2 separate regions of the Homo sapiens genome follow, and region 2 is linked to region 1. Evidence: fine-mapped expression QTL. A gene starts in region 1. The other region holds a variant in brackets. All regions are shown on one strand. Distances are from middle to middle. Region 1 holds the start of STX2 (syntaxin 2). Region 2 overlaps STX2 (syntaxin 2).

Region 1 (4,393 bases):
TTGCCCAAGCTGGTCTCCAATACCTGGGCTCAAGTGATGCCCCCACCCTGATCTCCCAGACTGCTGGGATTACAGGAGTGAGCCACAGCTTTTCTTCATTAAATAAATACCTGAGCTCCTACTACACGGCACTGAAAGATAATCCATCGGGCAAGACAACACAACTATAATTTGCTGTGTTTAAGATGATATTGATCTGCGGAACACAGGGAATATTTGTCCATTAATAAAAAAGGAAAAATCACCGTGAAGAAACTTCCTTGGAATGAATATAAAGCATAATTTCCATGATCCTAAGGATGAAATCATTGCCTTTCTCAACCAGAGCTCCTCATCTGAACCACAGAACACAGATAATGATTTAAGTGGCTCTTTTCTCTATTCTCCCACTCGGGGGTACATAACAGCTCCATTCTAGCAGCAGAGGAGAGAGAATAATTCATTACATGCAGTGGGTGTCGTAGGGCTGTGGGCCTTAGCACCCCTGTTCTGAGGCTGCCAACAATTTAGAGACCAGAGGCTCTATCTGTGCACACACGTAGCATGAATTAGTACCTGTATTGTAAAGGGAAAAAGTCATAACTACTTCTGCTGGCCTAAGCCGTCCTGGGTTAGACAAGCTTGGAAAGTGCACGACCATCACTATCATTCCGCTGTCACTGCACCATGCACAGTCCTGTCACCTTTACACGTGTAGAATGCATCGAAATCCTTCCAAAATTTTTAGTGACCTGCTTTTCCCTTGCTAAAGTAAACAGTAACTTGCTGTGTGCCCGGCTGCTGGGCGCGTAAGGTGCGTTCAGAGTCAACACACGGTCCCAGTTTCCAAAGCAAACTACTGGGAGATCAGACACAAGCTGCTGTTCGCGCTCGCCCCACCCCAAGCACCCAGCACTCTAAGGTGCCCACATTTCACACCCATCTGTTGCCTCCCGCTTGGTGCACAGTCCTTTGTGAAGCCCCAGGGATAAAGCAGCGACCAAGAGGACCCGGCCTGCTCCCCGGGGCTGACGCCAGCTGCGGGGACCCCGTGGGGCGGACCACAGTTAGGCCAGTGGGCTCCGGCTGGGTAAGCGCCAGATACAATCCGCCAAGCGGAGTGACGGACAGGGAGCCACGCTCGAAGAGGGGGTCGAGGCCGGGACCTTCCCCGCTCCCTCCTCCTGCCCCAACCCGCCCTGAGGACTCCGCCCAGGAAGCCCTGGGGACCCCGCCCGGAGCCCCCACCCTAGGACTCCCGGGACCCCCGCCCTGGGGACCCCACCAGCAGTCCCCGCTCAGGACTCCCTGAGACCCTGCCCGCAGCCCCCGCCCCAGAACGCCGGAGATCCCCGCCCTGGGGACCCTCCCGGAGCCCCGCCCAAGACGCCCCGAGCCCCCGCCCGCCCTCCAGACGCCGCCCCGGCCGGGCCTGAACCGCTACCCGCGGCTGCCGCTCACCGCCGTCAGGTCTGGCAGCCGGTCCCGCATCCCCGCCGGCCGGGCAGCGCGCCCCGCCGCTCAAGCCTGTCCCGAGCTGCCTCCGGCCGGGCCTCGGGCTCTCCGGTCTCCGCCTCAGGCCCCGCGGTCCCGGCCCGGCGCCAGCAGCCCTCCCTGGAGCCGGCGCTGCCACGGCAACCGCGCCCCGCGCGCTCTGCGCATGCCCGGCCCGCGCCGCGCCCCGCACCCACCCACACGGCGGCAGCGCTTTCCAGCGGGAGCCCGGAGGGGCGGGGCCTGGGGGCGGGGCCTAGGCGGGGAGGGGCGGGGTCCGGCCGAGCCCCAGGCTGGCAGTTCCGCTACACGTGCTGTTTGTCCCTTGATCTGCTTTTATGCTTTCACACTCATTGTTTTATTTATCAAAATATAGAGCATTCAACGAATAGTGACAAAAGAGCAAAGCTCCCGGAATGTGCTGGGTGCAGCTTTGGGTAATACATATGCCGAACCTTCTCTTTAAGGGTCCACGCGCAGCCTCGGGTGTGAATGAAGGAGAAGAGATCGTGTACCACACATGATGCTTACGGAGCATAACACGGCAGGGGGCGGTAACGGGAAGAGCGTCCGCAGGCCCAGCCCTGGGATACCATTCTGGCAGGAGAAACAGGCAATACAGACACAGACAAATAAATGATAGATGAGAAAAGAAAGTAAGGGCATGGGCACGGAACTGGCAGAGAGGTCGTCATGAAGGTGCAGGAGCTTAGGTGAACTACCCAGGTTGGGGGAACAGTCCCCAAGACCATTATCACCTCTGACACCAACGGCAAATTCTGGCGGTTTCCAAAACCACCTTCAAGTTCCATAATTTGCTAGAAGGAATCACAGAATACACTAAAAACTACTGTACTCACAACTATGGTTTCTTAGCAGGAAAATGATACGGATTAACATCAGCCAAGGAAGAAGGGCAGAGGGGGAGTCTGGGGATTACGGCGTGCAGCTTCAAGGTCCTCCCGTGGTCCTCTCCCTGTGTAGTCAGGCCTCATTACTTGCCCTGCACTGATGTGTGGCCTTACACACGAAGTACTGCCAGCCAGGGAAGCTCACTTGAGCCACAGTGTGCAGAACGTTTACTGGGCTCCATTGCATGTGCATGATTGATTGATTGTTTGATTGCTTTCATGCTTGATCTCAGCCTCTTGGTTAAGTGATATCCATGTAACCCTAAGCCCCCACCATAAATCACACTGTTACTCTCTGGCTAGCCGAAGACTCCCAGGCAAACAAAGATTGCCTTCCAGGAGGAGAAGGCAAGGCCAGATTTGTTTTTAAACAAGGTTAAAGTCTTTACTGCCTCCTGGAGGAGGTGGCTTTGGTCTGACCAGAAGGCAGCGCTAAGAAATCTGCTTGAGAGCAACAGGCTACACATTAAAAAACAGGACGTTTTGGACTTGGTTCTAGGTGTGATGTGGTTCTGTTACCCGATGGAAGGTCTTGACAGCCAGTTGTCCAGGTGAGTGTGGTGGCGGGCACCTGTAATCCCAGCTACTCAGGAGGCTGATGCATGAGAATTGCTTGAACCCGGGAGGTGGAGCTTGCAGTGAGCCAAGATCGCACCACTGCACTCCAGCCTGGACAGTAAAGCGAGACTCCGTCTCCAAAAAAAAAAAAAAGATATGTTTTTTCTCTCCATATCCTGAACTTCCCCACCAGAATGCCTCCTGGACCCCGCAACAGGCAAGTGCTTTTCTTTCGGCCTTCTTGCCTCTGCCACCACCATTTTAATTCTCCCTCTCTGGTAAATACTGGGCCCTCCCTCGTTTCTCCCTCTCTCCCAGTGGATTTTTCAAAAACATATGATAATATTGGCAGCAGCTGGATGGTGTTGAATTGGCAACCAAAACTTTTTGTTTGTTTGTTTGTTTGTTTGAGACAGAGTCTTATTCTGTCTCCCAGACTGGAGTGCAGTGGCATGGTCATAGTCCACTGCCGCCTTGAACTCCTGGGCTCAAGTAATCCTCCCACCTCAGCCTCCAAAAGCACAGGGACCACAGACATGAGCCCACCATGCCCAACCTCAAAACTTTCCTTATCCTGCCAGAGAAAAAAAATGAAGTTGTGAATAATCGTTGTGGGAATTCAGGGACCCTGAATGGAGGGACCGGCTGAAGCCATGGAAGAAGAACATAAATTATGAAGATTTCATGGACATTTATTAGTTCCCCAAATTAATACTTTTATAATTTCTTATGCCTGTCTTTACTGTAATCTCTGAACATAAATTGTGAAGATTTCATGGACACTTATCACTTCCCCAGTCAATACCCTTGTGATTTCCTAGGCCTGTCTTTACTTTAATCTCTTAATCCCATCATCTTCGTAAGCTGAGGAGGATGTATGTCGCCTCAGGACCCTGTGATGATTTTGTTAACTGCACAAATTGTTTGTAGAGCATGTGTGTTTGAACAATATGAAATCTGGGCACCTAGAAAAAAGAACAGGATAACAGCAATGTTCAGGGAACAAGAGAGATAACCTTAAACTCTGACTGCCGGTGAGCCAGGCGGAACAGAGCCGTATTTCTCTTCTTTCAAAAGCAAATGGGAGAAATATTGCTGAATTCTTTTTCTCAGCAAGGAACATCCCTGAGAAAGAGAAAGCATCCCTGAGGGTAGGCCTCTGAAATGGCCGCTTTGGGGGTGGCTGGGCATGGTGGCATGTGCCTGTAGACTACTCAGGAGGCTGAGGCAGGAGGATTGCTTGAGCCCAGGAGGTTAAGGCTGAAGTGAGCTGTGACTGTGCCACTGCACTCCAGCCTGGGCAACAGAGTGAGACCCTGTCTAAAAAAATATATATATACACATACACACATGCACTATAAATATATAGTATATACATACTATACACACACATATAGTGTATACATGCTATATACACACATATAGTACATACAAGCTATATGTATATACAG
Region 2 (4,393 bases), 27 kb before region 1:
GTTGAAAGGAAATAAAGATGTAATATTGCCCTTATTAAGTAAAAATCCTTTCAAAAAAATTTTTAGTCCTTCCTTTATTCTTAATTTAATTTGGATTCTCAGTAACAAATCATGATTCATTTTATCTTTTAAAAAAATCTTAGCCCAGTCCACTGAAAAAGCCTAGGAAAGAATGGTCAGGTCATCGTCATGTATAGCAATACATTCCCCAGCATGCTGACCTCGGTGTCTAGATCACATTCTTCAGACACAGGAGCAGGGCTTCCTGGGGAAATGGCTGATGCCAGGCCCAGGGAGGAAAGGGGTGAAATGAGCATGGGGACTTTTGTCACAGCAAAAAGTGGAAAGGCTGTCACAGACAATGAGGGGCCTACCAAAAGGACTCAAGAGTCCACCCTACTAGCCAAAGAGACCATCTGAGCATTAAGGATAATGCAGCAATGAAAACATCAGATGTGTTTAAATCCATGTGTTCACGATGATGGACGACAAGCAGCAACAGAGACTCTCCCTGGTCATCTCTGGAGGACCCCAGGGAACTGACCTATGAAAATTATACCAGAGAGAGAGAGAGTCCAACGCTGATCCTCTCTGTCCTCCATGATCTGTGACCCAGAATGTGCTTTGGCTCCCTTGGTTGGAGAAGCCAGGTCATTCGTCCTACAGAACCTGCCACACTGCACATTTTGCTGATTTCACCCTGCAACACATTCAGTAAGCTCTGCTGTCCTCTGTATTTACTGTGGGCTCATAGTTAAATTCTCCAAACTACCCAATTCAAGAGTTGAAGGGGAAAGGTTTCTTTTTAACTATTCCAGCAACTAAACAAAGAAGGAAGAATAAAATCAGGATATTCATGCTTGTAATCCCAGCACTTTGGGAGGCTGAGACTGGCGGATCATTTGAGGTCAGGAGTTTGAGACCAGCCTGGCCAACATGGCGAAACCCCATCTCTACTAAAAATACAAAAATTAGCCAGGCGTGGTGGCGGGCGCCTGTAGTCCCAGCTACTCAGGAGGCTGAGGCAGGAGAGTCGCTTGAGTCCAGGAGGTGGAGGTTGCAGTGAGCCGAGATTGTGCCACTGCACTTCAACCTGGGTGACAGAGTGAGACTCTGTCTCAAAAAAAAAAAAAAAAAATCAGGATATTACTGCTTGCAACTTCTAATGAATTATGGATCTTGGAAATAATCATCCATTTTTGACAATATCACAGAATAGAAAAGAATGTTATATCTTATTTAAAATTTTACTGAACTTACTTAGAGCCAAGAAAAAATGTTAATGTCACCATTAACATCTTTTTTTTTTTTTTTTTTTTTGAGATGGAATCTTGCTCTGTCGCCCAGGCTGGAGTGCAGTGGCGTGATCTCGGCTCACTGCAAGCTCTGCCTCCTGGGTTCACGCCATTCTCCTGCCTCAGCCTCCTGAGTAGCTGGGACTACAGGCACCCGCCACTGCGCCCAGCTAATTTTTTGTATTTTTAGTAGAGACGGGGTTTCACCGTGTTAGCCAGGATAAGTCTCGATCTCCTGACCTTGTGATCCACCCGCCTCGGCCTCCCAAAGTGCTGGGATTATAGGCGTGAGCCACCGTGCCAGGCCACCATTAACATCTTAACGTAACCATGAGGACATAAAATCTGTAATCAGATGCTGCATCTTTACATTTTAAAAACCCACAAAAAACACCTGAATCAGATAAAGCTTGGAGAATTTAACTACCAACCTACAGCAAATTCAGAGGACGGCAGAGCCTATTAAATGTGCTGCAGAGGTAAAATCAGCAAAATCTGCAGCATGGCAGATTCTGTAGGACAAATGACCTGGTTTCACCAACCAAAGGAAAAA[G/A]TGCAGAGAGAAAAATCATGAAGGGAGAATCTCATTTTTAAAAGCCAGGGTTTGGTCCTTATTTGGGACTCAATTCAAGCAAACTGTTTAAAAAAAAAAAATCGTAAGACCACTGGGGAAATTCTGCCTGGATATTCTGTACTATTAAGTAATTATAATGAATTTGGGTTTAGATATAATTGTGGTTGTGCTTTTGGGGAAGCTTCTGTTTTTGAAATACACACTGATGAAATCTCAGATGCCTGGGATGGGCTTCAGAATAGTCTGGGAGCGGGTGCGGGTGGGAGCTCATGGAGAACTGTGGAGCTGGGGGGTCGGCTTGTGGTCGCCTCTCTCTGCTTCTGCACACATCTGAAACCTGCCGTAATAAAAGTATTTTATCATCTGCACAGAGATTGTTTTTGATCTTGATGCCATTCTGCAAAAATCAAATACAACATGTTTTCTACCAAATCGAGAAAAAGCAACCTCTGTTTAAGTCCCCTGTTTTACATGACAAAGCTATAAGCCTCCCAAAAAACTACTGCTGCTAAAGTGGAATGCCAAACATCATCGAATAAATTCTACAGAAAGTTTGAAAGAAATGAGCAATTAAAGGGTCCATTCAAGAAGAGCCTGGCAACTCACCTTCCCAAACATCTGCAACTTAGCCTGAAATGTCATCAAAAATGTAACAGTATAACAGTTTATAAGCAAACACATAACCTTTTTGAATATTAATTAGTACTCTGAATTACATACAAATAATTTATTTTAAAGCAGTCACTATTTTAATTTTTAAAAATGTAAAAGAACAAAAACCAATAAAGAAAAAAATAACAAATACCCATACTCCCAACATCAATAATTAAACATAAAACTTCAAACTTACCCTTTAACTTGGCTCGAATTTTATTCGCAGTTTTCTTGATTTCTTTGTTCAGATCTTCAAGCTCTTCTTTTATTTCTATAAAAATTTAAAATTAAAAAATAAAATACAGCATCTGAGCTATAATATCCAACATAAATGATATCCAATAAATTTAAGTGAAACAGTATCCTTAGTAAATATTCACTTTTTTTCTGTAAGAAAAACTACCGCTTATACCAGTGGTTCTCAAGGTGGGTCCCTAGACAGCAGCTTTCATAAATATCAGGTGGCAGCTTAGTAGAAACACAAATCCCTGGGGCCCACCCTGGACCTACTCAGAAACTGAGGTGGGGACAGTGGCCCAGCAATCTGAGTTAGCAAACCCTCCAGGTGACACAAGTTTGAGACTTGCTGCTCTATACCCATGAATGAAACTGCTGCCTAAATCCACTGCTAACACCTAGACCTGGGAAAGGAAAACGGAGACGTAACGATGATCTCAACAAAGTCTCCCGTGTGTGTGCTTTTCTCTTGTGCTGTCAGCTGTCTCCCCAAAACGCCCGAATAATCACAGCCACCACTTCAGGGCTGCTGGGCCGGTCGCCCTGGCCTGGCTTCTCAGACACTCAGGGCTGCAAGCAGGGGGCGATGGAGGCAGGGGCCGGCCTCCTAACACGGAGGGAGGCCAGCAGAGCAGGAGCTGACACTCCAGGGCAGTGCTGAGACCTAAGGCCACCCAGGGCGTCATAGCAGCCTCTGCTTTCATGCCTAGCTGCCCCAGAGCCCAGGGAGGGTGGCAGGATGTCTGCTCCATGCCGCACACTCACATTTGCCAGTCCAGTGGCTGAAGTGACCAGAAGGGAAGGGGGTTTCTCTCTCCTTTGGGCAGAAGTTGCTGAAACAGGAAGGCCCCCGCCCCGTCTCTGGAGTCCTGTTGTCGTTTTAGAGAGTCCTGCACTTGCCTCTCTCACTCAATCTCACACGCATCAGCCGGGGAAAAGGCAAACGTTTCTGCCGTAGACAACTTGGCCAAGAATGAAAGCTTTCAGAGATGCCCACTCTCTTCCTGACACCCCCTCAGCTGAGCATACGCAGGGTGCCCCGAGTACCCACTGCACACAAGCGTGTGCTAAGTCTTCTTTCCATGCTCAGCTACAGTCATCAGACGCAGCCTGGCTCGTCCAGGGTTTCAGAGCCAGATCAGAGACTGAGTGATCTCCAGAGGTGACAGGTCACGCACCAGTGACACCTACTGAGTACTTTCTGTGTGCAGGCCCGTGTCATCTAAGGAGGCTAACAAGACCGCCAGGGACCTAACAACTCGGTAAAAACAGACAAGACAAACCCAGGAAGCGCCAATGCCACGCAGAGACTAACAACGGACGAGACAGGGTTCACAAAATGCCATGGGCAGCGAGGAGGAGAAGCGTCTGCTGCAGCTGTCCCACAGGAGGGGACATCTGACCTGGGAGTGGAGAGACTGGTGGCTTCCATTCCAGGCAGAAGAAGGGTCTATGGCACAGAGCAGCGGGACGGTGGGCTGTAGTGACTGGCGTGGGAGGAGGCCAACTACAGGCTGCCTGGGCAGGAGTGTGCAGGCCCAGCTGAGTTTGGGGCTTTTACTGAGGGCACCAGTCAGCACTGAAGGTTTCTCAGCAAAGAAAGGCATCAGCAAAGATGCATTAGAAAGACTTT

Evidence for each region. PIP is the estimated chance that this variant, and not a neighbour inherited with it, causes the effect. A credible set is the group of variants that fine-mapping cannot tell apart.
Region 2: its variant is the best candidate, but not a certain one, in a credible set for the expression of STX2 in blood mononuclear cells (TOPMed, PIP 0.52).

What each region holds. Positions count from the first base shown.
Region 1 is chr12:130,837,630-130,842,022 of GRCh38, forward strand. It overlaps STX2 (syntaxin 2), which reads right to left and starts at 1,621. Exons shown (of 11, transcript NM_194356.4): 1 at 1,441-1,621. The coding sequence starts at 1,470. RefSeq lists silencers at 1,185-1,244, 1,315-1,824.
Region 2 is chr12:130,810,238-130,814,630 of GRCh38, forward strand. It overlaps STX2 (syntaxin 2), which reads right to left. Exons shown (of 11, transcript NM_194356.4): 4 at 2,720-2,794. Among named protein-coding and RNA genes, the nearest start is that of STX2, 27 kb to the right of the region's middle. RefSeq lists a silencer at 1,446-1,629 and an enhancer at 3,632-3,871. The variant G/A (reference allele first, on the strand shown) is at 1,849.